Homo sapiens: one gene and its partners. The protein of the gene in region 1 interacts with the protein of each later gene in a pairwise test. Each region holds a gene or a part of one and is shown on either strand. Other genes may lie near its edges. The genes, in order: MPP3, CRABP1, IDUA, GNG7, TMEM37, FAM171B and ARL2BP.

Region 1 (3,500 bases):
CTTTCAAAAGTCTATTTCACAACAAAACACTTCAAAAGTATATAATATTCCTGAACTTTCTTTCTCAGGCACTGAAACAACTGAGGACCTCAGAATTTAAACCCTATATTATATTTGTAAAGCCTGCAATTCAGGAAAAAAGAAAAACGCCACCTATGTCCCCAGCTTGTGAGGACACAGCAGCCCCATTTGTAAGTTTAAAGTTGATTGTTTCTTTTCTGAAGGCCTAAGGGAGGCTGTTACAGGAACGCTTCTAGCTGCATAAGGGTGCTTGCAGCTGAAGAGGGATGCGGGACACACCTTCTACATGTGATTGTCTTTCCATTTTGCCTATTGAAAAACTTAAGAGAAGATGATTACATGGCCAGAAGGCTCAAGGTGAACAGCTGGAAGTGCCTCCCAAACCAGGCAGGTGGCTTTGCCTGGGCTCACGCCCCTCCACTCCCTCACATAAGCGCCCTCCCGCAAAATGTGACACCTGTCAGGGACCTCATCTGAGTGTGACAGACTGTACTCATCAAACTATACTCCTAGGCCAAATCCAAGTATTTTAAATTGAAACCCCAACTAACAAGGTCATTATCACTGCTATCAAACCAGTTTGAATCATCAGTGAATGAAGGGATTTCTAAAACTAGTGGATGAGATCGTCTGATGTGTCCTAAATGAACTTCTGTTTCACTGTCATAGATTCTTTGTTCAGCCCAGTCTATGTCAGGATGGCGAGACCCTCACCCAAAACCTAAATATTTGACAGAGTTCTTCCAGGAGGTGTGGGCTTGGTGACTCATCTTTTTTGGTTCTTAACAGGGTCAGTTAGCAGAATGAGTTGGAAGTTGTTGTGGGTGGTGGGGGCAGTCAGAAGCAACTCAGTCCCAGAATAGACTTTACTTGCTGTCCTATATAGCTGGTTTCATCTGAAGGAGGCCTTCTCGGATCCTTCCCCTTGGTCAGGAAGCTCCCGCTGAGTCAAGATTTTGATGCAATCCTAGTTCATACTAATTCTCAGTTTTAACTGTCCACGTTGATACACTTTTTATTTTATTATTATTTTTTTAAAGACAGGGACTCACTATGTTGTCCAGGCTGGTCTTGAACTCCTGGGCTCAAGTGATTCTCCCACCTTGGCCTCCCAAAGTGCTGGGATTACAGGTGTAAGCCACTGTGCCCAGCCTTTTATTTTTTTGGGGACAGGATCTTGCTGTATTGCCCAGACTGGAGTGCAGTGGTACAATCATGGCTCACTGCAGCCTTGAACTCCTGGGCTCAAGCAGTCTTCCTTCCTCAGCTTCCTAGGTAGCTGAGACTACAGGCATGTACCATCAATGCCCAGCCAATTAAAAAAAATTTTTTTATAGAGACAGGGTGTCTCTGTGTTGGCCAGGCCGGTCTCAAACTCCTGGCCTCAAATGATCCTCCTGCCTCAGCTTCCCAAAGTGTTGGGATTACAGGTGTGAGCCACCGTATCTGGTCTCAGTAAATTATTTAGAATGGCATACATACAAGGAACATTAGAAATTCTCTCCTTGGCCAGGTACGGTGGCTCACACCTGTGTCTCAGCACTTTGGGAGGCTGAGGCGGGCAGATTGCTTGAGCCCAGGAATTCAAGACCAGCCTGGGCAACTTGGTGAAACCCCATCTCTACAAAAAAATTACAAAAATTAGCCAGGTGTGGTGGCACAAACCTATAGTCCTAGCTACTCGGGAGACTGAGGTGGGAGTGGGAGGATCACTTGAGCCTAATAGGTCAAGGCTGCAGTGAGCCATGACCATGCCACTGCATTCCAGCCTGCATGACACAGTGAGACTCTGTCTCAAAAAAAAAAAAATGTAGAAAAAAGAAAAATTTTCTCCTTTAGAAACTCTAAGGGGGAGGCTGGCATGGTGGCTCACGCCTATAATCCCAGCACTTTGGGAGGCTGAGGCAGGCAGATCACCTGACGTCAGGAATTCGAGACCAGCCAGGCCAACATGGTGAAACCCCGTCTCATACTAAAAATACAAAAATTAGCCAGGTGTGGTGGTGCATGCCTGTAATCCCAGCTACTCGGGAGGCTGAGACAGGAGAAACACTTGAACCCAGGAGGCAGAGCCTGCAGTGAGCCAAAATCACGCCACTGCACTCTAGCCTGGGTGACAGAGCAAGACTCCATCTAAAAAAAAAAAGACACAAGAAACTCTAAGGGGAATAGGGGAATATCAACTTAAGTCTAGAATCATTTAGAAACATACAATATTGGCTGGGTGCAGTGGCTCACACCTGTAATCCCAACACTTTGGAGGGCCAAGGCGGGTGGATCACCTGAGGTCAGGAGTTCAAGACCAACCTGACCAACATGGTGAAACCCCATCTCTACTAAATACAAAAAATTAGCTGGGTGTGGTGGCACGCGCCTGTAATCCCAGCTATTTGGGAGGCTGAGGCAGGAGAATTGCTTGAACTTGGAGGCAGAGGTTGCAATGAGCCGAGATTGCGCCATCGCACTATAGCCTGGGCAGCAAGAGCAAAACTCCATCTCAAAAACAAAAAAAAGAAACATACAGTATGCCCATCATATAACAAAAAAATCAGAGACAACCTAAATAATGTTCACTGTCAGGACTCAGTTCAATATACTCCATTATGTGACACTTACAGGATGTATTGAAGTATTATAGCCAGTTAAAAGCCATATGTTGGGGCCGGGAGTGGTGGCTCACGCCTGTAATCCCAGCACTTTGGGAGGCTGAGGTGGGTGGATCATCAGAGGTCAGGAGTTCGAGATCAGCCTGGCCAACATGGTGAAACCCCGTCTCTACTAAAAATACAAAAATTAGCTGGGCGTGGTGGCAGGCATCTGTAATCCCAGCTACTCGGGAGGCTGAGGCAGGAAAATCACTTGAACCTGGGAGGCAGAGTTTTCAGTGAGCTGAGATTGCACCACTGTACTTCAGCCTGGGCGACAGAGCAAGACTCTGTCTCAAAAAAATAAATTAATTAAATAAATAAATAAAAGCCATGTGTTGGAGGAATATTTGATGACATAGCTAAATACAAGAAAAAATAAATCAAAATAAAAAATCAGGATTCTAATTTTGTGTTACACACAAAATACACTAAAACGCTAAAGGCAATTCTCCCTGAATAGTGGGCTCATGACTAAATTTTGTTTTGTTTTCTGTGTGTTTTTTGGAGGGGGAGTTAACAGCTTTACTGAGATAAAATTTACATACTGTACAATTCACACATTTAAAGCATACAATTCAATGATGTATTCACAGAGTTGTTGCAACTACCACAGTCAATTTAAGAGTATTTTCATCACTTCAAAAAGAAACCTTGAGCCCATTAGAATTTCCCATTATCTGTTTTCCTCCAGCCCCTTCCTAGCCACAGGCAACTGCTAATCTACTGTCACTATAAATTTGTCTATTCTAAACATTTCATATAAATGGATTCATGCAATGTAAGACCTTTTGTATCTGGCTTTTTTCACTTAATATAATGTTTTTAAAGTTC
Region 2 (4,072 bases), on another chromosome or scaffold:
CAATTTGGATTTTATTTATTTTTATTCATTTTTTTTTTGAGATGGAGTCTCGCTCTGTTGCCCAGGCTGGAGTGCAGTGGCACAATCTTGGCTCCTTACAACCTCCACCTCCCAGGTTCAAGCAATTCTCCTGTCTCAGCCTCCTGAGTAGCTGGGATGACAGGTGCCTGCCACCACGCCCAGCTAATTTTTTTGGTATATTTAGTACAGATGGGGTTTCACCAGGCTGGTCTCGAACTCCTGACCTCAGGTGAACATAATTTGGATTTTAAAAGCAAGAACCTTCACATCAGAACCACAAGATTTGACAACAGTTAAGACACCAAGTTTGTAACCACATCTGTCATCAGCCTATCAGGAGCACGATTCCCTGCATGGATTTTGGGATAGGAACGTCCTTTCTGTTCACTCCTCATCAGATTTAGTGCACCCCTGCACTGATAAACCTCGGTGTCTTTGGCTCTGAGGGTTAAAATGCTGCCACTTTCCCGGTTACATCCCTTTAGAAAAAATTTAAAAAGCAAATCAATCTGAAGGCTCTTCATGCTTTTGGAGGTGGGAGGCAAAAGGAGGGATTTCCTGAAGTTTTTCCCCAGTGTCTGCACAAAGCTAAGTGTGGTACAGCTGGGCTGGGGGGTGGGCCAGAGCTGAATGTGCACATAATCAGTTTTTAACTAACACATGGGACACATTCATTAGGCAAGGTGTGGGGGGATGGGGGGTGCATAAAGCCCCACTCTCCCGGCTGTTGTGTGAACCTTTAATTTTTTTTTTTTAAATCAGAATTACCCTTCCTGGCAGTAGCCAACATTGGATGTCCCCAGACTGAGCCCTGCCTATTGCCAAGCCTCCTCTCTTAGACTCCCAGCCCTTCACTCTATGCTGTCCTGCTCTTTGTTTCTGCAGTGCAGTTTAGGCTTCAGATCCCACCCCCTCCAAGCGTGGAGATCATTTCCAGGCTATGACAATTCTGGAGCCAAAGATTGCCTCCTAGATCAGCCTGCTTCTGGGGGGCTTTGTTTCTTTGTCCTTCCAAGCCCGGTGCTCAGAGAGTCCCATTCCGAGATCAGACCAGGCACTGCTCAGGAAAGGTGAAAGAAACAATTTCCCACTCTCTGGAATGTTACGACTTTTTTCTTTAAAAAAAAAAAATTGGAGAAGGGGAGGGAGACATTCTGTCACTTTTTAAATAAGTGGTAGCACCGGTGATTATTTTTCCATCTGGTTAACCAAATGCAATTTTTGCCCATGCAAAAAACGAATGTACAACCCCTTGCTTCAATCCACCGGTTCATCCCTGGGCCGATGCATGGAGAAATAAAAAAAAACTCTTGCCCTTGAGGACTAAGAGAGGGCAACTAGTCCATTTTCCCAGCCAGAACCTGCCTTGCTTTTGGAAAGACTCCGCCGTTCCTTTAAGGAACCAGGCCGAAGGCGGGAAGGGAGAGGTGACGGGGCCATCGGGACTGCTAAAACTGTATCCAGAGCGTACCCAGGCGGCCCAGGGACCCGGGCGGGCGCGGGGGATACGGCGGGAAAGGAATGCAAGAGCTGCGGCTTCACCTGCGACAGAGAACCTGGCGGCTCCTGCAACCTCCTCCTCCTCCTGCGCCGCCTGCGCTTGGCGCTGCAAACCGCTGCAAAAGCCACTGCTGGGAACGCGGCGCAACCCAGAGCCCGCTCTTTAAGCGCGGCTGTTAGCACCCCGGGAGGCAGCGTAGGGATGGGGTTGAGATGGAATGAAGGTAATACTTTGTCTTGAGCCAGGGGCAACTAGGATGCACAAACCCCCTCTGCAAACAGCCAGTGTACACACCCTGCAAGGAAGGCGCGCCACAGGCTGCAAAGGGAGACACAGGTTCCTCCAGCAGCAGTGGGCCATGGGCACCGAGCGGGGACACGGGGACGCTGTAGTGGCTCTGGGGCCTCACCCTGCACTTGCGTCCGTCCACGGTCTCCTCCTCAAAGCCTTCTCCGACCTTGAAGTTGATCTCAGTGGTGCGCACCGTGGTGGATGTCTTGATGTAGAACTGATCCCCGTCCTGGCGGATCTCCACGTGCGGCTTGGACGCAGCCGCTACGGCCACTTTCCTCAGCATGGCGTTCACACCTGCGCAGGGTGCACCACAGGCTTGGGTCACGGGGCCTCGCCGCCAGTCTCGGGACCGGTCGGGCACTGGTCATACCCTAACTTTAGAAAGGGGCCTTAAAATTGATCCACTCGTTTCCCTGCCCTCGCCCTTGTTTTCGAGATGAGAGACTGAGGCACAGAGAGGGTAAGTGACTTTCCTCGAGTTGCACAGTGAATTCGTGGCAGAGCCTGGTCCCAAATTTGAGTCTCCAAATTTAAGTCCCTGATCCTCCTTGCTCTCCAGTAATCTCTCCTCGCTATGATCTAGCACGAGATAAAGTCCGCACCATCGAGGAGGGCGCCAAACATTCAGCAAACGTTCGCTGAACGCGTGGGTTCCGGGATCTCTACCAGCTTCTCCGAGACCCGGTGCGCCTGGGAGACAAGGCGATCTATTGCCCCGGGGACTCCCTCCTGCCTGGGCTCCCCAACTTCCACCCCCTCCAGGACCGGGGCACTTCCGGGACCAGGGCACCTCCGGGCCGCATCTCCCCGTCGGGGCGCGCCCTCTGCACCAGCTTACCCAGTGCCTTGAGCAGCTCGTCGAAATTCTCGCTGCTGCGCATCTTCCAGGTGCCGGCGAAGTTGGGCATGGTGGCGGTGGCGGCGGCGGCAGGTACGGACAGCGGCGGCGCAGCGGGCACACTCTGAGCTCGCAAGGCGGAGACTGGCGCTTTGCGCCCAGCGCTGCGCGCCTTGAGTCACTAGGAGAGCGCCCCCAACCCCGCCGGGCTTCTGGCCCCGCCCCGCCGGCCCTGCCCCCGCTCCCCCGCAGCCCCTACTCGGTATGCGCTCAACTCCCAGCCCAGTTGTGCCTCAGCCTCCAGAGGTGCGGGCACCCGCTCTCCAACTGGGGAGCCTCCACCTCCCTCAGGACACCCACATCCCGCTTTAAAATGGGTGGTGGGAGAGGGTTAGCTGAAACAAGATGGGCTTGGAGGGGATAACTGTTGAAGCTGGGCGGTGTGGACTTGGGTTATGATTCTACTTTTCTCTCTACTTTTGAATATGTTTGAAAATATCCATAACATAAACTTAAAGTGGATAGCGAGCGGGGCCATCAGGGGATGGGACCCACTCTTTTTTCACCTCCGGTCGTACCTACTGGGTGTGCCCAGATGGTGTCCCTTCCCTCCCAGTCCGGGATCCTATTCTGAAACCCTCTCCCCGCATCCCCACGCCCCCCACAGGACCCATGGGGAGTGAGTGGCAGGAAACCGCAACCCCCATCAACACCAGCTTGGGCACTGAGGCGCGAATCCACGAGCTGCGGGTCCTCCGCGTTCCGAGTGCAGGAGGGGGCCAGACCTTTGTCAGGGCTCAGGACAAACTGTGGGTCGAGAGGCATGGACTGAATCAGCTCCAGAATCTGGGCTAGGTGCGGCCTGTTTTGCAAAAGCGTGAGGCTTTGCACTCTTCGGGCAGGCTGTGAGGGCCAAGGGGAGGAAGTCTTCTCCCTTTGCTCCCAAATAACCTAAACATCACGACCTAAAGTCCCCTCGGTGTTTCCACTAAGGGAGTACAAACACTTCACTATTACCCTTGTAGCTCTTCTCTGTACATTTTCCTTCCAGCTTTTTCCCACTATTTTACCATCTGCACACCTCAGCCAAACTGTACAATTCAGGATTCTAGAACGTGCCATGCATTTTATTATCTCTAAGTTTTTGCCCATGCCATGGCTTCTTCCTTGAATGCCCCTTTCCTCATCGGGTTAATCAAATCTTGCCCATTCACGAAAGCCCATCTTTATGCTCTCTCTTTTGTGAAATTCAGTTTCCTAATAAACTGTGATTATTTTTCTCTGAATTGACAGGATTCTTGTCCGGTCCTGCTCTTGTTCAAGTCTTCGCTCTGCTATAAACTGAACTCCTGGAGGGCAGTGATCGTTTATCCACTTGTCCTCCCTTCCTAAGGCTTAGCCAGGTGGGGCTCGATAAC
Region 3 (4,015 bases), on another chromosome or scaffold:
AGACCCAGAACACTGTAACTCTAATTATCCTTCTCCCAACTTAGAGAGGATTATTGTCCAGTATTTTCGTTTTGTTAGTAGACTGTTCTTTTTTTCTTTTCTTTTTTTAGAGATGGGGTCTCATTTTGTCAACCAGGCTGGAATGTAGTGGTGTGATCATGGCCCGTCTCAGCCTTGAACTCCTAAGCTCAAGCAATCTCCCACCTCAATTTCGTGGGTAGCTGGGCCTCACAGGCATATACCATCGCATCTGGCTAAATTTTTTTTTTGTACAGATGGGGTCTTGGTACATCTCCCAGGCCGATTTCAAACTCCAGGCCTCAAGTGATCCTCCCGTGTTGGCCTGCAATTCCAAAGTGCTGGGATTGCAGGTGTGAGCCACCGCACCAAGCCTGTTCTTTCCATTATTATTTTTATACAATGTTTGCTTGGATTCACACATGCATACATGGACTACACATGTACTACAGTTGTCCCATGGTATCCTCGGGGTATTGGTTCCAGGACCCTCCCAGATACCAAAATTTGCAGGTGCTCAAGTACTTGATATAAAATGGCACAGTATTTGCACATTACCTACGCACATCCTACTGTGTAGTTTAAATCAAGATTACTTATAGTCCCTAAAACAATGTAAATGCTCTGTAAATAGCTGTTATACTGTATTGTTTTAAAATATGTATTATTTCGTATTGCTTTGGCTTTAAAACAATATTTTCAGTCTGCTTGGTTGAATCCATGGATCTGAAGCCAAGTGTAAGGAGGGCCCAGTGTGCTCTTCTGGGGTAATTCTCCTTCCTGCTAAAGCGCACGCTTTACTCAGGAGGCTGGGGTGAGAAAATCGCTGAAGCCCCGGAGATGGAGGTTGCAGTGAGCTGAGATCGCGCCACTGCACCTCAGCCTGGGCGACAAAGCAAGACTCTGTCTCAAAAACACACAAAAACAGAGAAAAACAAGACAGTAATGGCTCAACTCACATAGCACCAACGGGCGAAGCGTTCTTCTGAGCGCTTTCCGAGTCATCGGTCCTCAGAGCAGCCCCTGAGGCCCGCAAGGAAGCGGGGCTCCAAGCCCTGCCGTGCTCCCGGCTCCCCGAGGCTCCCCGAGGCCACCCAACCCCTCCCACCCGGCCATCGCCCCCTCACCAAGGCCCCGCCCCGCGGCGGCGGTCACATGGGGTGCGCGCCCAGACTCCGACCCGGAGGCGGAACCGGCAGTGCAGCCCGAAGCCCCGCAGTCCCCGAGCACGCGTGGCCATGCGTCCCCTGCGCCCCCGCGCCGCGCTGCTGGCGCTCCTGGCCTCGCTCCTGGCCGCGCCCCCGGTGGCCCCGGCCGAGGCCCCGCACCTGGTGCATGTGGACGCGGCCCGCGCGCTGTGGCCCCTGCGGCGCTTCTGGAGGAGCACAGGCTTCTGGTGAGCGCTCCGCGGCCTCCGGGACCCCCTGGCCGCACGGGGAGAGCTCGGGCGCCCCCTGACTGCGCACTGTGAGAGCTTCAGAGACCGGAGCTCCCTCCTCTGGGGCCCTGGCTCTCCCGGGCCCGCCCCCCGCCGTGTTTGTGGGTGGGTCCTCCACCTGAGTGGGCGCCGGGGCGTGAGCCTGGGCCGCCCCCTGCAGCCCAGGCCGATGCCCGGGATCCTGCTCTTTGAGGTAAACCAGGAGTCTCCCCTGGGAGTGGACGGCCCTGCAGCGGGACCTGGCCTGCCTGTCCCATTCCTTCCACCTAGAGCTGAGGTACCCGCCTTCCTGGCAGGGCCAGGGCCAGGGCTGGCGTTGGCCCCTCGTCTTACTGCTGCTGCCGTTCCCCATGAAGATGGGACCTCCCCACATTCCTGGCCCTAAGGGTCATTTTATTAGTCACTGAACGCACGGGCAGCGCCTGGATCCTGCGCCCGGGCAGTCCTGGGCTTGAACGTGTGTGTCAGCCGCGCTGCCAGCCATGCTGAGGCTCGGGACTGAGCCGCCCCTTTGTTGTCCCCAGCCCCCCGCTGCCACACAGCCAGGCTGACCAGTACGTCCTCAGCTGGGACCAGCAGCTCAACCTCGCCTATGTGGGCGCCGTCCCTCACCGCGGCATCAAGCAGGTCCGGACCCACTGGCTGCTGGAGCTTGTCACCACCAGGTGGGCGGCGGGCAGGGTCTGGGCGTCCCAGAGCCCCTTACAGAGGCACAGATGGGAGGGGAGGGCTGGGGGCTGCTCGGAAGACCCCTTGTTCCCCCACCTCCCGCCGAAGCACCCTGTTGGGGAGAGCGTGTCCTTGCTGGCTGTGCTGGGGTGAGGGCTGTGTGCTGGAGGGAGCCCCTGCATGGGGCACGGTGGGCTTCCTGCAGGTCTCCCTGCAGGCTCAGGGTTGGCTGCGCCGCACCTGGCTCCTGGTGCACCCGTGAGCATCCCTGTGTGTGTCTGCTGGCCAGGCTGGGTAGGGCCACTGCACCTGAGGGCTGAGCTGAGGTCTCATCGGTCACAGCACCCTGGGCCCTGACGCTGGTGCAGGTGGCCACCCTGTGAGGGGGAGGCACGAGGTGTGAGGGGCACTTGGGTGTGTGGGGCCTTCTGGAAACACAGAGACCCTCGTGCACTTGGCCAGAGCCGCTGGCTCCTACCAGCAGGGTGGGCACCGGGCAGGCCTGGGCATAGGGAGTCCTCTTGGCACCTTGGAGGCTGCATGATGGCGGGGGACCCTTGTTCAAATAAGATGTCAACCCTGAGCGTCAGGTCAGGCCCATCCCTCCTGAGCTGAGGGACGGTGCATTGGGGCCCAGCCAGCACTGTGGGCCAGCCTGTCTCGGAGGCAGAGGTTCTTGATTTCTGAGTGTTTGGGTCCTGCGTGTGATCAGAGGGCCTCCTTTCCCAGTTGGGGTTCCCCGGTTTCCCCAGGGCAGCTGTGGCACAAGAGTGCAGCTCTTGGGTGGCTCCTCCCTGGGAAGGGTCTCAGCAGTGGCTTGCAGACGTCTGCTGTGGGTCCCCAGGAGGGAGCAGAGGCTGCTGGGCAGGCCTGGCCCTGCTACAGATGGGCATCGGTGGCCTCCAGCTCCCTGTGGCGGGCTCGTGCTGTCTGCACGGCATCGTGCACACTGAGGAACAGCTGCTCCTCCTCAGCCGTGTCCCCGGGGCCCTCCCCGAGGAAGCCTCCTCTGCTCAGAATGTCTCTCACAGGCGGGCTGCAGCAGGCTAGCAGCAGGCTGATGCCCAGGGCCCCGTAGTCTCGGCGCAGGTCCTGCAGCGTGCTCACACCGGCTGCGTCTAGGAACAGCAGCGGGGCGCAGTCGATGACCACTGTGTGGAAGCCGGCCGCTGCGGGCACCAGCGCAGCCCTGGTGCTAACCGGGCCCAGGTCCTCGCCCTGGGCAGGGCCTCCCTCACCGACCCCCGTCTCTGAGCCCCCCTCCTTCCTCCTGGCAGCCATGCACCCTGCGTCCAGCCCCGTGAGGCTGTAGAGTGACTGCAGGAAGAAGTCCTTGTTGGCATAGTACAGCGGCCCCCCAAAGCGGAACACCCGCACGCCGGGCTCAGGGACGAGGCCCTCGAACTCTGTGGCATCCTCGTAGAAGGCCGTGTCCCCGATGCGGGCCAGCAGGGCGGTGCGTGGGCGTTGGGTGCGGCCGGCCAGGCTGAGCAGCGAGAGGATGACGCCAGCCAGCAGCCCGGCCTCTGTGCTGACCAGCATACAGGTGGCCGCGGTGCCTGCCCAGACCAGCGCGTCAGCCGGGCTCATCCGCCACAGCCGCGGGAGGTCCCACACCTTGCGCAGGGCCCCCCGCAGGCTGACCACGATGACGCAGGCCAGCACGCTTCGCTGTAGGTCGTGGAACAGCGGTGCCAGCGCCAGCAGCACCAGCAGCACCACGGTGGCGCTGACCACGCTGGACAGCTGTGTCCGGCAGCCAGTGGCTGTCTTCACCAGGCTCTTGGCCAGGGCGGCGCTGGTGGCGAAGCAGTGGAGGAAGGCGGGTAGCACGTTGCAGCAGCCCACAGCCAGCAGCTCCTGGTTGGCACGCACAGAGTAGCCGTGACT
Region 4 (3,500 bases), on another chromosome or scaffold:
ACAGATGAGGTCTCACTATGTTGCTCAGGCTGGTCTCGAACTCCTAGGCTCAGGCGACCCTCCCGCCTAGACCTCTGAAAGTGCTGGGGTTACAGGCATGAGCCGCCTCGCCTGGCCAGTACCTCTGCATCCCAGATCCTCTGTCCTCCTTTGGACCCCAAGGATACCTGGGACCTGGGCCCTTCAAACGGCCAGGAGCCTGTGGGACAGCTTTGGGGTCTTGCCCAGCTGGGCAGCCGGGGGACGCTCATGCCCACAGAGTGAGCCCGCCGGCTGCGGCCTGTGATGACTCGGACCTGGCCTGCTTTCTAGACTTCTATTTGGGAAGCGGCCCTCCTGGACGACAGAAATAGCCTCCAGACCCCGAAAATAGCTGGCATTGTGGCTCCAGCACGTGGCACCTTGGCACCACCCCCCATGCCCACTGCGCTGGGCTGGTGAGCCCCAAGATCGTCGCCGTTGAGGTTCTGTGGTTCTGGTCGCCGCGTTGGAGCTGGGGATGTAAAACCTCAGGCGGGACTGGGAGTGGGGACGGGTCAAATCCTGGCTCCCCCCGAGGCCCGACATTCAAAGGGGCGGTGGGGGCCCCTCCTCAACATCAAACAGGGCAGGATGAGTCACCGCCCTCCGCCCGGGCTGGGGGCTGGCACCCACTCGTAAAAGGAAAACCACTTCAACCAGGGCTTTCTCTCTTTTCAGCCCGAAGGAATGCTTTGAATGCTCAGGTCTGTCCTCAGCAGTCAGATTGCTGGAACATTCAGACACCTCGTGGGAGGCAGACCCCTCCCCTACTGGTTGGATCCCGGCCAGCAGCAGCGTGATGGGGTCTGGGAGGGCTCAGAGCTGCGCTGGAGGGAGACTCACCGGCCGATCAGAACCACCTGTGCCACCTGGCCAGCAGGGACGACTCTGTCCGCCTCCCCGCTGGGAGCAAAGCAAGGGCCGGTCACCCCTTCCTAATAAATTCCCGTGGCCAATAATGACAAGCTGGTGACAGGTGCTGGAGAGCTGAGTTCTGAGTGGATACGTGGGGTGATGGCTGATTTTATGGGTGCACTAGGGCGGGCCATGGTGCCCCAGGGTTTGGTTAAATGTTTTTTTGTTTTTGTTTTTTTTCTGAGATGGAGTCTCACCCTGTCGCTTGGGGTTGGAGGGCAGTGGCGCAATCTCAGCTCACTGCAACCTCTGCCTCTCGGGTTCAAGCTATTCTCCTGACTCAGTCTCCCAAGTAGCTGGGACTATAGGAGCCTGCCACCACGCCTGGCTAATTTTTTTGTAATTTTAGTAGAGATGGGGTTTCACCATATTGGCCAGGCTGGTCTCGAACTCCTGACCTTGTGATCCGCCCACCTCAGCCTCCCAAAGTGCTGCGATTCCAGGCGTGAGTCACCGTGCCTGGCCAGTTAAATGTTTTTTTAGATGTTGCTGTGAAGGTTGTTTTTTTCTTGTTTCTTTTTTTTTTTTTTTTTTTTTTGAGATAGAGTCTCGCTCTGTTCCCCAGGCTGGAGTGCAATGGTGCGATCTCGGCTCACTGCAACCTCCACCTCCCAGGTTCAAGTGATTCTCCTGCCTCAGCCTCCCAAATAGCTGGGATTACAGGCATGCACCACCATACCCGGGTAATCTTTTTTTTGTATTTTTAGGAGAGACGGGGTTTCACCATGTTGGCCAGGCTGGTCTCGAACCCCTGACCTCAGGTGATCTGCCCACCTCAGCTTCCCAAAGTGCTGGAATTATAAGTGTGAGTCACCGCGCTCAGCCTGTTTTTTATTTTGTAGAGATGGGGTCTTGCTATGTTGTTGCCCAGGCTGGAATTGAACGCCTGACCTCAAGTGATCCTCCTGCCTCGGCCTCCCAATGTGCTGGGATTACAGCTGTGAGCCACTGTGCCTCACATGCAAAATTTTTTTTTTTTTTTTGATGTGATTCACATTTAAATCCGTAGACTTCAAGCACAGCAGGTGACCGTCTGTAATGCAGATGGGCCTCATCTAATCAGTTGAAGGGCTTAAGAGAAAAAGCCTGGGGTCCTTCCAGGAGGAGGGAACTCTGCCTCCAGGTGGCCTTGGGGTTCCAGCTGCAGCACCAACTCTTCCCTGGGTCTCCAGCCTGCTGGCCTACACTGCAGATTTCAGAGCTTGCCTTAAAATAAATCTCGACAAGGCGCAGCCTCAAGTGTGATCCTTGTAAAAAACTTCAAACGGGCCAGGCATGGTGGCTCACGCCTGGAATCCCAGGACTTTGGGAGGCCGAGGCAGGCGGATCACCTGAAGTTAGGAGTTCAAGACCAGCCTGGGCAACATGGCGAAACGCCGTCTCTACTAAAAATACAAAAAATTAGCCAGGCATGGTGGTGCATGCCTGTAATCCCAGCTATTTGGGAGGTTGAGGCAGAAGAATTGCTTGAACCCGGGAGGCAGAGGTTGCAGTGAGCCGAGATCGCGCCACTGCACTCCAGCCTGGGTGACAGAGCAAGACTCCGTCTCAAACAAACAAAACAAACAAATCCTTCAAACAACACAGAAGTGAAAAGTAGATACGACATGCAGTCTCCTCCCGCCTGGGACTGTGTCTCTCAGTTTAATTTGCATCTGTCATTGCCAAGGAGCTGGACAGATCAATGCAGATGAGGACGACAAAGCGCTCTGTCACGATGACCGTCTCCACGGGGCCCCAGTGTGTTTACAAAGCACGTTACATTGCTGCACGAAGGCAGGAGATAGGTGTTAGATCAGCTGCCTCTTTCTGCCGAGGAAATGGAGGCTCAGAGAGGTTAAGGGAGGGCCTCAAGGTCACACAGCAAGAGACACAGTTGGGGTGCAAGCCTCTGCCCTCCTGCCGAGCCTCCTGTTCATCATTTGCGGGGCCCCCAAGGGTCTCTCCCCTCCTCTTCCTGATGCCCGCTGGGCTCACCTTGATGCGCTCAATCCCGGCTTCTATGCGTAGCTGTTCCACCAGCTTCCGGGCCTGGGCTATGTTGTTAGTGGCTGACATTGTCTGCCATCAGCTCTGGGCCCCGTTGTTCAGAGAGCTGTGGGGGAAGCAGAGGGGTGTGGGTCAAAGTTCAGGTCAGGCCTCTGGGTGGCAGCAGGGGCGCCCGGCCTTGGCTCAACCTTCCCGACTCTAGGCACGGCCACTTTGCCTCTGGGTGGGGACCAGGGGCCTCCGTGTACAAAGAGCTGGCACTCGTTTAACTCTCAGCATAGAGCCTGGCACGCGGTCAGCCGTCACAATCCTCTGTGGGAGTTTGCAGAACGAGAGAATGAAAGGGCGAAGGCAGGCTGGGCGTGGTGGCTCACGCCTGTAATCCCAGCACTTTGGGAGGCTGAGGCAGGTGGATCATGAGGTCAGGAGATCGAGACCATCCTGGCTAACACGGTGAAACCTCATCGTTACTAAAAAAAAAAAAAAAAATACAAAAATTAGCCAGGCATGGTGGTGGGTGCCTATAGTCCCAGCTACTCTGGAGGCTGAGGCAGGAGAATGACGTGAACCCGGGA
Region 5 (4,100 bases), on another chromosome or scaffold:
ATCTAAGTGGAAGATATACAGACAATTGTAACTACCCCTCTTTCTCACATGGCTCTAAAGGGGAAAACAGATGAGTGCAGTTGCTTTGTCTTTGGGTAAAGTCACCAGGAGCTGCCTGCCTGAGTGAACCAGACAATTTAATGTGTGCCATTTAGTGAGGGGCCTTGTTTTACCACCACATTTGAGGATGGGGGGAGGGAAGCCTTTCTGTTGGAATTTGTGGCCCTTGGACACTCCTCCCACCTCCACCCTTTTTGGCGGTAAAAGCTTTTAGGTGCTGCCTCTTTAAGAACTCAGATCCGGCCGGATGCGGTGGCTCATGCCTGTAATCCTAGCACTTTGGAAGGCCGAGATCGGTGGATCACCTGAGGTCAGGAGTTCGAGACCAGCCTGACCAAAATGGTGAAACCCCCGTCTCTGCTAAAAAATACAAAAATTAGCAGGGCTTGATGGGGCGCGCTTGTAATCCCAGCTACTCGGGAGGCTGAGGCAGGAGAATCGCTTGAACGGGTTTGAACCCAGGAGGCGAAGGTTGCAGTGAGCCGTGATCGCGTCATTGCACTCCAGCCTGGGCCACAAGCGCTAGACAACGTCCAGAAAAAAAAAAAGAGAGACCTCAGTTCCCATCGAGGTGGAGAAAAAATAACCACATTTGTTTGGCATATTTGCATTTTTAATAGTCCCTGAGGAGTTCAGGAGGAAACAGGGTTTTACATCCCCTTTTAGGGACGCAAGTAGGATTGCCCCAAAAAGTTCCACTCCGTTCACACTCAGCGAGGGCCCGGCAAGAGCCCCACCTTTCACATTCATTATTTCCCTTACTAACCGAGGCTCCGAGACGCTAAACAAGCAGCCCAAGGTCACACCGCAGAGTGAGGGCAGCAGAGCCTCTGCGCCTGCCTCCTCCCTTCGGACCCTGCCGCGTTCCCAGAGGCTGGACTCAGCAAGCTGGAACAGGAATCGAACCCTCAGGCCCTCGTCGCCGTCCCAGCCCTCGAGGAATCTGCGCCCCAGGCGAAGCTGTCCTCGGAGGTTCGGGAGCGTCGGAGTGACTTCCCGATCCTTTCCCCTGGGACCCGAGGGATCCCTCCCCCCAAGTGCCGGGTCCTCCCCGCGGCTCCCCAGGGGCTCCTCCGGCCGCCCTCGCTGACTCAGCGTAATCCGAGCCGCGGAGGGCGGCGGGGTTGGCGGAGCCCGCCCGGGGTTAATCGCCGAGCTTTGAACGCCCCCTCCCGCCCCGCCCGCCTCCAGCAGCCGCCCCGCCCCTGCGGAGAAGTCCCGGGCTGGCGCCGGCGGCCACAGCGGAGCAGCTGGAGCGATCGAGGCTGCAGCGCGGCCGCCGGGCGCAGCATGACTGCCGTCGGCGTGCAGGTAGCCGGCGCCTGGCGGGGCGCTGACCCGGGGTGCTGCCCCGCCGTGGGAGGTTGGGGGTGGGAGGACGGAGGGAGGGGCGTACCCACCGCGAGCGCCGGCGTCGGGCTGGGGGTGCGAGCGCCCCCCGTGCCCGCCCCCTGTTGCAAACCTGGGTCCGGAGGAGGCTGGGCGGGGAGCAACCTCGGGGGGCCTGCCTGCCTCACATAGCTGCTCCCGAGGCGCGGACTCCGGCTGCTTCTGCTCGCGGCCTTGCAAGCACCCGAGGCTCCCAAACTTCATTTGGAAAGATTTTTCTTCTCTTTGGTGTCACCAGTGACTTACTGGTCAGTTTACCATAAGGGTCCCCCTTTGTGAGAAATGAGGCGCGTCTGGGGTGGAGGGACAGAATCGACTTGCAAAGTGAGGCTTATGTAACAGAGGATGCGTCTCTTGGGAAGTTAGACCTTTCTGGGGGTGGAGGTTAGGAAGACCGTCTCCCTCCCCAAAGCTGCGTTTGGGGTGCTGGGCTGGGGGTGGACTTGCTGAGTCGCGCGGACACCTCAGGGAAAGGCTCTGGCGAGGGAAGAAGCCCGTGTCTCCGAAGATTTGGCTTCTCCTTAGCGTAGTGCACGATGTTTATGTTGGCTAAGAACCTACACATTCCTACCCGCTCCCTCGGGCCTGCTGCTCCCCAAAGGGAAGTCAGTGGGTGGCGGTACCGCTGCCCAGCGGGCGAACTTCCTTTCCGCGCAACTCGCCCGCTGCAGAGTCTATCCGCTGGACTGTCTCCAGGATTAGAGAGGCCCGTTGACTTCGTGTACAAACGCTCAGCCACAACACTGACCTAGTAGACACCGTTCTGCCCATTGTATAGATGAGGTAACCGAGACTCAGAAGTAAGGTGCCCTCCGTGGCTGGCCAAGGAACAGAATCAAGATTCAAACCCAGGGCTTTCTGGCTCCAAATCCCACTGGCTCCTCCTGCCTTTACCTAACGGGAGAAACCCCACCCACAGGACACCCCCAAAACCGCTTCTATAGCCAGGACCTAGGCACCTGGGCGAAGCCGGGCATGGGGCGCAGGGAATTCCTCCCCTTTGTTCTGGGGGATGTCTGGAATCCCGGCCAGGCAGCATGGTGGGACAGACCAGGTGCGGTCCCTCCCCTCTAGGAGCTTACAGCCCATGTAGGGAGAGAGACTTGGAAACAGGGCATGGGGGAGCGAATGCTAAATTAAGAGGTGCAAAAGTTGCCAGACGGGGAAGAGGAGGAAGCCTGGTAGCAAGGTGGGAGCTCAGCTGGGGAGGCCACAGGCTCCAGGTGAAGGGCGGGTGCTCCGGCCGCTTCGGGATGATAACTCTTCATCCCCACAACCATGACTTGCCAGGGGGCAAACACAGGTAGGAAGCAAGTTCTGGGTCATGCAGGCAGCGGTGGGCCAGGCTGCAGCTGAGAGGAGCAGAGGCAGGCCGGCTCATCAGGAGGCTGTGAACTTCCAGGATGTTGACGATGGTGATGGCCTCACCTGGGTAGGGGCAGAGTGGGTGATGAGGGGGAGCAAATATGGGAGACATGTTGGGGATGTGCGGAATGAGTTGGGAGGAGCTTAATTTGTCTACCTGGGGGTGCTTTGGTTAAGGGGAACACATGAGGCCCTGGGTTATAGGAGGAAGACCATGACATTGGACTCAGTAGCCCAGTAGTGTCAAGTGACCCTATTCTATAGGTCACTAGAAATCATGCAAGGTTACAGATGAAAAAGGAAAATGCTTACATTTTTAGCAGAGCAGTTAAGCTCCAGAGAGATTTAAGTGATTGCCTAAAGGTACCCTGCAGGGGTCCTCTAGGTCAGGGGCAGGACTTGACCTCCCCGCTCCCTTCTTTTCCACTGCACACTTGTCCAGCTGCCCTCCAGTAGCCGTTTCAGGCCCTGCATCACTGAAAGCTGGTGGAGATGCCGGGTGGTTAGGAATGAAGACTCTATATGTGTTATTATTGTTATTAATATTAATAGCTACCATGAGTTGGGAGCGGCCCGTGTACCATGCATCTTTATATACAGGATCTCATTTGATTCCTGGGAGTTTCAGTGGTGGCCAGAGAGTTTAAATGAAGCCCTACTTTGGGGCAGGAGCGGGAGGAAACTAGATGAGGTCAGCTGTCTCCACTTTCTGATCCTGACGTGACATCTAAGGGCCTGGAGATTAAAGTCCAGTCTGCCTAGGACAGGTAGGGCTGGAGAAGGGACAGGACGTGCCTGTTTTCCAGCCAGCATGCTGTCTCGGGTTAAAAGGTTTCTGGGTCCTGTGATTTGTTCTCTGCCTGTGGTGCTCCTCCTTTTTAGGACCATTTATCATTCTCTAGGGACCTTGTAACCTTGCCAGGTGCCTTCATGGCTACGACTTTCCTGCAAGTGTCATTAACTTCATTTTCTAGATGAGGAAACAAGGGCTCAGGAAGTTAAGAAACTGCCCAAGGACAAACACCTCTAATGGTTTGTGGAGTAGACACAGGTTTTCAAAGTTTCCTTTGGTTTCTTTCTTACCGGTAGATTTTTTTTTTTTTTGTAATAAAATGCAATACAGACTCCTGGACCCCCAATGTCCCAAGCAGGTACAGGGCTCAGTTGAAGTGAGGAAGGGGATGCAGAGCCAGCCTGCTCAGCTTCCCTGCCCACCCGGCTTCAGCACTGGAAGCCCCACCAGGAGCATGGGGACACAGTTTGAGAACCACAGCCCATACTCTTAG
Region 6 (3,500 bases), on another chromosome or scaffold:
CTTTGAAATATCTCAAAATAATAAAAGTATTTCCATGCAACTGTGTTTTCTCTTAAGAGATTTGAGGATGCCATGCTATTTCTATTAATTTTAAATACACAGCATAGAGGAAAGATATCAAACGAGAACTCGTGCTTTGGGAGCTCCTCAAAACTGATTTTTCTTTTGGAGGATTGAGAACTCCTCAAAACTGATTTTTCTTTTGAAGGATTGATAAGTTTGATTTGATCTTGCTTATAAAATGGTCTTTTGTCCCAGCTTCTTGCTCCAATCTTGAAATAATATCTTTCAGGTAATCTGCATTTAACTCATCCCAACAGGTAGTTCAGCTGCCTATGCTTGTAGGCAGGTTCATCTCCATCCTGCATTACTACTAAAGGTTGCCTTTGAATCATTTTGTGCATTAAATTGTTTCCTTCTCTGCCAACTCAGGATCCTTTTGGCAAACCACACTGTTTGCAGAAGAGCATTGTGCTCTTATGTGGGAAGGTAAAAGTGAAAAGTGGATATAGTTTATATCTAGAGAAGCTTGAATCATGGAGCCAAGAAAAAAAATTTTTAAATCTTAATAAGTAAAAATTAGAGAAAATATATCAGGGAGTTATTCAAGCATTTAACTTGATCATTTATATCTGGGGTTACAGAACATCATTCATCACCTTGGTATAGACTACTACCATCAAATAGAAAAGATTAGTAAAATAAATAGTGATAACCAATGTTTTCTTCTCACTTTATTGTGACCTTTTTTCCTCCATCATATTTTACATTCATTCTTCCTTTGTTTTGAATTGCTCTTCCCATCAAGCATTTGTTCCCCCCCACAACACACTTTTTGAGACTTGCTGTTACAGAACTATATTTGTCCTAGTTTTTTTCCCCTCACATTAAGTAAAATATTCTAATTGTGCTATATTTCACAGTATATTCATCAGTTACACTTTCACTGTTCCCGCAAAGCCAAGCAAATATATGGCTATTTGAAGACACTGTTTTAATTACTGGAAAATTAGCTGGTAAGTACCATACTTCTTACTAAGTAAACACTTAAAGTTATTGTCGTATAACTGTACTTCTTCACTAAGAATCAGTGTGAATTATAACTTGAGAAAAATCTAAATTGATCAGTATGATTAGCACTGACTATAAGTTGATCTGAACTGATATTTTACTGTCAAATGAATGGTGTGGGCTTTTTTGTATAGCAGGAGTCATTTTTTCCTTTACTATTTTAGCCCCTCAAACAGGCACACTGTAGAGAACTTCTGTTCTTCTTTCCAAATCACATTTCTTACTGGGGCTTCCATGGTGGGAGAAATTGAGGAAAGGGCAGGACACATATTGCTCAGGCCTTTGGGGCTAATTTACAGATTGCCTCCTTCCTGCCTCCAGCATTAAATTTGTCGCTTTTTGGGAGATGCCTAAGACTTGGTAGTTAAGTATCTGCTCTGTAGACGTGATTTGCCTCACTTGTGTATCCCAAGGAGAAGAGTGCAGAAATCATGTTTTGGGTACTGATTCAAACTGTGTCCTCCAATTCTGCTTTACCAACCATGAAGATGATTGTTTCATCCTAACTCCCCGCACGCCTTAGAAACCTCAGAATTCTGTGACTCTTTTATTGCATATTTTAGGAAACCTCTATAAATGACAACAATTTGCTTGTTTGTTTTGTATTGGTAAATTCATATTTAGGTCTAAAGTATAACAGGAATGACTGATAAAGTGAGAAAGCCCTCAAGGTGGAGTCCAGTAAGAGCGTCATGGTAAAAAGAACTCTCTGTGAAAGTTCTTTTCATTTTTAGATGCTGCCTTATCTATTCCTAAAATATTCAACCAGAAAATTTACTATTATTTGGGAAAAAAATAAACTAGGGCTTGATGAATCTTGAAGCAATTTACTGAGTGAGGCTGTAGAATCTCTTACTTATGAAATACCAAGACATTTGAAATACCAAGATATTTGCCAGATTTTTTTTATCTTTGAGACAGAGTTTCGCTCTTGTTGCCCAGGCTGGAGTACAATGGCACAATCTCAGCTCACTGCAACCTCTGCCTCCCGGGTTCAAGTGATTTTCTTGCCTCAGCCTCCCAAGTAGCTGGGATTAAAGGCATGTGCCACCACACCCAGCTAGTTTTGTATTTTTAGTAGAGATGGGGTTTCTCCATATTGGTCAGGGTGGTCTTGAACTCCTGACCTCTGGTGATCCACTCGCCTCAGCCTCCCAAAGTGCTAGGATTACAGGCATGAGCCACCGTGCCTGACCAGCATTTTTTTTTTTTTTTTTTGAGACAGTGTCTGGCTCTGTCACCCAGGTTGGAGTGCAGTGGTGCAATCTCGGCTCACTGCAACTTCTACCTCCTGGACTCAAGTGATCCTTCCACCTCAGCCTCCCAAGTAGCTGAGACCACAGGCGTGTACCACCACGCCTGGCTAATTTCTTATTTTTCGTAGAGATGGGGTTTCACCATGTTGGCCAGGCTGGTCTCAAACTCCTGACCTCAAGCGATCCGCCCATCTCAGCCTCCCAAAGTGCTGGGAGCTGCCATGACTGGCCTTGCCAGAATTTTGAGCTAGTGATTTTTGCTGTGTATGGCAGAATGGTGGATGTGGAGCTGTGTGTGAAAGAATGGAAAGTAAATAAGAATTACAAGTATACAGAGAGGCTCTGTTTAATGCTATTGGGGCCTTAATGAAATTAGCTTCTTCACAGTCCCTCTTCAGTGTTTGTTTTGATGCATCTCTGCCCCTCACTGGCATCTTCAAACCCCATTAACAATCATAGTTTCTGCTGGAATACATGAAATGGATCTGTGTGACCATGTCCCGTACCAATCCTTTGCCACTGTACCAAGCAGTGGTAAGCACTCATTTGTCTGGAAAGTACTGGCCATGCCTTGGCAGGTTTCCGTGAGAACACTGTGAGTCCTCTTGAATTCTCAGATCACTTCCTTTTACTGTCTCATTTTCCTAAAAGGTGACCCATTTGTAAGGCCAGGCAGGAAAGTATGAATGTTTCATAATGATGTTAAATCTTTCTGTAAAAAATACATATCCTTACTGCTGAACTTCCATAACATGTTTCATTAGGTTTGTACAGTGGAAATTAAGCCTGTGTGTTTATGTATTTATGGCAAAAGGAGAAACTAGAAAATTTAGGAATGTACAAAACCTTACAGAAGCTCAGCTAGACATTTTGTTTAGTGTGCATGTGTTCAGTTGTAAGAAATGTGGTCTTCAAAATAATTAAGCCACGTATTTTAAAAGAGCAAGTCATAGGTAGTACCTGTGAGTGATCAGAAGGCTTTAGATTGTATCCTCAACAACCAAACAGCATATAATTATGTTACTTTTCTTAACTGTTTTCCAGGTATTATTTTTCTAGCTTCACACACACAAAAACTATAAACTGAGAAGTCTTACATTGTTTCATTTATCATTTATTGTCATGTAGCTCTTTAAAAACTGATGTCTTTTCTATTCTAATAATTTAATTGAT
Region 7 (4,172 bases), on another chromosome or scaffold:
CCGGGCAGTAAGAGCGAAACTCCATCTCAATAAATAAATAAATTAGTAATAATTTATGTCACCTTGGTCACAGCTGTCACACCCGACTGTGTCTTTGTAACCATCTTTGTTTCAGATCCCACGGATATCTATTTTAAGTCCATTCAAAGATGTCTGCTAGGCCGGTTGTGGTGGCTCACACCTGTAATCCTAGCCCTTTTGGAGGCCAAGGTAGGTGGATCATCTGAGGTCAGGAGTTCGAGACCAGCCTGGCCAACATGGTGAAACCCTGTCTCTACTAAAAATTCAAAAATAGCCGGGCATAGTGGCACGTACTTGTAATCCTAGCTACTCGGGAGGCTGAGGCACGAGAATCGCTTGAACCTGGGAGGCGGAAGTTGTAGCCAGCCGAGATCGTGCCACTGCCCTCCAGCCTGGGCGACAGAGCAAGACTCCGTCTCAAAAAAATAAAAAATGTCTGCTAACCCATTCTGACTGGCCACCTGACCCTCAGTTCATACCTTAAACCCCTCTAGTTCCTCTAGTCATATACCACACTTTGGCCATAAGGTATCATGCAACTAAAGAGACACAATGCTTAGTTGTCCAATCAAGAGAAATCAGCTCAAACGAATCCTTTTTCAAAGTTTGGCAGTTTTGAAGAGGCCTTTTCCTGAAAGGTATCTGATTCCTGATTGCGTGGCTCAAAATAGTTCTTCAATTCTCATCTTGTATAATTAGTCAAGAAACCAATTACTGCCGAGTAATCTTTATGATGCGAAGATTATAACGTAAATTACAGGACATCGACTTCTTGCGATGGGGCTTTCCTTCCACGAGGGGTAGGAACTGTCTTGAAATCAGACGTCAGCATCACCTGGTTCAAGGGATAAGGGACTGGCTCTCCAGCGACTTGGCAACTTACAAGCGCTCTTTAAACACGCCTTAAACTACTTATTTAATCCTCCACACTCAGGGAGGCGCAATTTATTCTCGAGTTGCGAGTGAGGAAATTCTGGCTCGTGGCTTCGATTCCTTCATCCGTACAATGGGGGCGACTTGAGACGGAGTTCCCACACAACGGGTGCTCGCCGAAGCGCCGCATCCCTCCGCACTCCCTTCCGGGACTTCCTCTCCCTGTCTTGCCCCGCCCCGGCATCGGTAACGCTCGCCTGTGATTGGATGCCGGCCGGCCGTGAGGCGGTGGAAGGGGTTGCGGTGGCCATGGTGACAGGAGGCGGGGCGCCGCGCCCCTCCGGCAGTCACCGAGGCCCGGACCTGCGGCGTCGGCGGCGCGCGCAGAGGGCCAGGCGGGCGTAGAGGCCGGACCGACGCGTGGCGGCAGAGGGTATCCAAGGCCGGACCTGGCGCGCAGGCGCTGACCCGACCTGGCAGTGAGCTGGCCGCGGCCTTGGCTGAGAGGCCTTAACCCCGCCGGGCGGCCGCGCCCTGCATGCGAGTTGGGCCGCGGGCGGGGTTGGAGCCTACTCGGGGCGACTGCGATGGACGCCTTAGAAGGAGAGAGCTTTGCGCTGTCTTTGTGAGTAGCTCCTCCAGGGCGCAGGCGACTTGGGGCCGGAGGCAGCGGGCGTTCGCCCCGGGGCCTGACCCTATAAAACAGGTGTCCTTAGGGGCCGGGCCGGGCCGGGCCGGGCAGGGTGGGGGCCGCCAAGGCGCCGTCCCAGCTCCAGGCCTTCCTTTTGTAGAGTACTAAGGCTGCAGGTTTCAGGCCCCGCAGGACAGGAGTGCGAGGCGGGTGTCACCGTTGATCAGCGCCTCCATCACAATCCCCAGCCGCCAACCCTCAGCTGTCAGCAAAGCCTGGAGGGGTTGAGCGCCCGAGGCCCCTCCACCCCTCCCTGGCCCCCGCCTCCCGGACTCCTGACCAAATGACCCCCCCCGGCAGGTGTTTCGCCCGTGCCGGGTTCATGCTCACAAGCAGACAGGTATGGGGTGATAGCTAAGAGCCTGGAGAACAAGTTTTTATTAAAGTGGAGTCATGACATTGAACGTTCATGTCACAAACGTGCCGAGTGTGTTTTCTTCTGTTTGGACTTACTAGATCAGTCAGTCATTCTTAATCGTTGAAGATGGGTGATGGGAAGTTCGTTTTGCTACTCTTTTTTCTCTTGTGCATGTTTGAAAACGTCCATACTAAAAACATTTTTTTAATGCATTATTTGAAATAGCACCTAATCCAGGCATGTTTTTCAGCTCCTCCGCCTCTGATGCAGAATTTGATGCTGTGGTTGGATATTTAGAGGACATTATCATGGGTAAGCTTTTAAGATACTGTTTTTAAGGACTTGCTTGTTTCTTTAAGGACATTGAAATCAATTTGGAGAGTTAATTTTAAAAAGAGAAAACATCAAGCTGCCTGCAATTTTTAATGTAGCACAATGTAATACTTAAGTAAAGGCTTACTGCAGTTTGTCTTAGAAACAAACAGCCCAGTACTCCTGAAAACATCTAATAAGCATAGATTCAGAGGCTGGAAGGGACTGACTCAGGCTAATAGGGCACCAGCAGTGTGGCGTTCTTCGCAAAACTATAGGAAATAATGATCTACTCTATTTCTTATGTAGGGTAAGAGCAATTTCAATTTTAGATAGTTTTGAGTTTTAACATTTTCATGCCATAAAACACATAAAACCAGGCCAGGTGCGGTGGCTAACGCCTGTAATCCCAGCACTTTGGGAGGCCGAGGTGGGCGGATCACGAGGTCAGGAGATCAAGACCATCCTGGCTAACACGGTGAAACCCTGTCTCTACTAAAAATACAAAAAAAATTAGCCGGGCGTGGTAGCGGGCGCCTGTAGTCCCAGCTACTCAGGAGGCTGAGGCAGGAAAATGGCGTGAACCTGGGAGGTGGAGCTTGCAGTGATCCGAGATCGTGCCACTTCACTCCAGCCTGGGCGACAGAGCGAGACTCCGTCTGGAAAAAATAAAAATGAAAATAAACACATAAAACCATAACCATAAGCACACATGGCCATAAAGAAAACAAGGTATTAAGCTTCAGCTGGTTCTGTATTTTCCTAGGTTTTGAGTTCCTACTTGTGGATGTATTTGGGCATCCATGAAACCTGCTAAGTAACAGAGAAGCAGTAACAGTCCCCAGAGGTTTAAGACAAGTATGTAGGAGGGGAAAACTTACATTTGAGAAAATTCTGTTGACTTTAAGTTTTATGAGAATTGAGAAAAGAACACTGTTATTTGGTGTTATTGGCTGTATGGCTTAATCCATTTAGAATGAAAATTACTGACCAAGTTTTTATACCTTCAGGTATAAAGGTTCATGCCCTTAACTCCTGAATATAGATGTTTCATCATTAAGCTCGTTTCCCATGTGGACTTGGGGATTTCTGGGGAATACTGAAGAATCCATTCAGTTCTCTTGCCTATTATACCCTATATGCTATGGGAAAATGAGCCTTCTGTGAGCCTACGGTATTTATCCCAAAGTCTGGGTCCTTTCTGAAACTTTCCTTTTATTTTTAGAAATAATCTATTCAGTTGTTAAAATTCCTTATTCCGGGATGGGTACGGTGGCTCACACCTATAACCCCAACACTTTGGGAGGCCAGCGCAGGTGGATTGCTTGAGTCTAGGAGTTCGAGACCAGCCTAGGCACCATAGGGAGAACCCTGTCTCAATTAAAAAAAAAAAATTCCCTATTCCCTATCATTTATTAAGTGTTCACTATGAACTAATCTATTTACATGAATTCTCATCTAAATTCCACTTCCAATCCTATATGATAACTACCATAAACCATTCTTATTTTCCAGATAAATGTGTTTATATGGGGGTTAGAGAAATTAAGTAACTTACCCAAGGTCACACAATTAGTAAGTAGCTGAGATGCGATTCGAACCCAGACGGGCTAGCCTCTTTCAGACCCCATAATTTTAATCACTACACTGTTTCCACAACTGCTGTGGAAGTTATATCAAAATAAGAGAGAACCAATTCATTCCTTTTCAGAAAAGTAATGTCAGGGAGTTCCCAAGCCACCCTGTGTGGATATGGTTAAAATGGACTGAAGGATGGTGGTGATCATTGCACAACAATGTAAACATACTTAAAGCCACTGAGCTGTGTGCTTAAACATTAAAATGATAAAAAAAAATTGTATATCTCACCACAATTTAAAAAGAAAACAGGGCTGGGTGCGGTGGCTCACACCTGTA

What was found.
Region 2: the proteins of MPP3 (region 1) and CRABP1 interact in a two-hybrid assay, tested with the Homo sapiens proteins (one large-scale study listed by IntAct).
Region 3: the proteins of MPP3 (region 1) and IDUA interact in a two-hybrid assay, tested with the Homo sapiens proteins (one large-scale study listed by IntAct).
Region 4: the proteins of MPP3 (region 1) and GNG7 interact in a two-hybrid assay, tested with the Homo sapiens proteins (one large-scale study listed by BioGRID and IntAct).
Region 5: the proteins of MPP3 (region 1) and TMEM37 interact in a two-hybrid assay, tested with the Homo sapiens proteins (one large-scale study listed by BioGRID and IntAct).
Region 6: the proteins of MPP3 (region 1) and FAM171B interact in a two-hybrid assay, tested with the Homo sapiens proteins (one large-scale study listed by BioGRID and IntAct).
Region 7: the proteins of MPP3 (region 1) and ARL2BP interact in a two-hybrid assay, tested with the Homo sapiens proteins (one large-scale study listed by BioGRID and IntAct).

What each region holds. Positions count from the first base shown.
Region 1 is NC_000017.11:43,805,647-43,809,146, reverse strand, and holds part of MPP3 (MAGUK p55 subfamily member 3), read left to right. Parts: intron 1-68; coding exon 69-191; intron 192-3,500. UniProt on the Homo sapiens protein: Participates in cell spreading through the phosphoinositide-3-kinase (PI3K) pathway by connecting CADM1 to DLG1 and the regulatory subunit of phosphoinositide-3-kinase (PI3K). Stabilizes HTR2C at the plasma membrane and prevents its desensitization.
Region 2 is NC_000015.10:78,339,081-78,343,152, reverse strand, and holds the start of CRABP1 (cellular retinoic acid-binding protein 1), read right to left. Parts: upstream 2,801-4,072; 5' UTR 2,725-2,800; coding exon 2,655-2,724; intron 2,111-2,654; coding exon 1,932-2,110; intron 1-1,931. UniProt on the Homo sapiens protein: Cytosolic CRABPs may regulate the access of retinoic acid to the nuclear retinoic acid receptors.
Region 3 is NC_000004.12:985,829-989,843, forward strand, and holds the start of IDUA (alpha-L-iduronidase isoform a precursor), read left to right. Parts: upstream 1-1,215; 5' UTR 1,216-1,256; coding exon 1,257-1,414; exon of another isoform or gene 1,415-1,980; coding exon 1,981-2,121; exon of another isoform or gene 2,122-3,004; coding exon of another isoform or gene 3,005-4,015. Other genes in the region: SLC26A1 (sulfate anion transporter 1), read right to left, coding at 3,005-4,015.
Region 4 is NC_000019.10:2,517,695-2,521,194, forward strand, and holds part of GNG7 (guanine nucleotide-binding protein G(I)/G(S)/G(O) subunit gamma-7), read right to left. Parts: intron 3,032-3,500; 5' UTR 2,995-3,031; coding exon 2,914-2,994; intron 1-2,913. UniProt on the Homo sapiens protein: Guanine nucleotide-binding proteins (G proteins) are involved as a modulator or transducer in various transmembrane signaling systems.
Region 5 is NC_000002.12:119,430,554-119,434,653, forward strand, and holds the start of TMEM37 (voltage-dependent calcium channel gamma-like subunit), read left to right. Parts: upstream 1-1,300; 5' UTR 1,301-1,350; coding exon 1,351-1,371; intron 1,372-1,519; exon of another isoform or gene 1,520-1,697; intron 1,698-4,100. UniProt on the Homo sapiens protein: Thought to stabilize the calcium channel in an inactivated (closed) state. Modulates calcium current when coexpressed with CACNA1G.
Region 6 is NC_000002.12:186,742,560-186,746,059, forward strand, and holds part of FAM171B (protein FAM171B precursor), read left to right. Parts: intron 1-923; coding exon 924-1,016; intron 1,017-3,500.
Region 7 is NC_000016.10:57,243,887-57,248,058, forward strand, and holds the start of ARL2BP (ADP-ribosylation factor-like protein 2-binding protein), read left to right. Parts: upstream 1-1,372; 5' UTR 1,373-1,481; coding exon 1,482-1,519; intron 1,520-1,906; exon of another isoform or gene 1,907-1,925; intron 1,926-1,928; exon of another isoform or gene 1,929-2,193; coding exon 2,194-2,255; exon of another isoform or gene 2,256-4,172. UniProt on the Homo sapiens protein: Together with ARL2, plays a role in the nuclear translocation, retention and transcriptional activity of STAT3. May play a role as an effector of ARL2.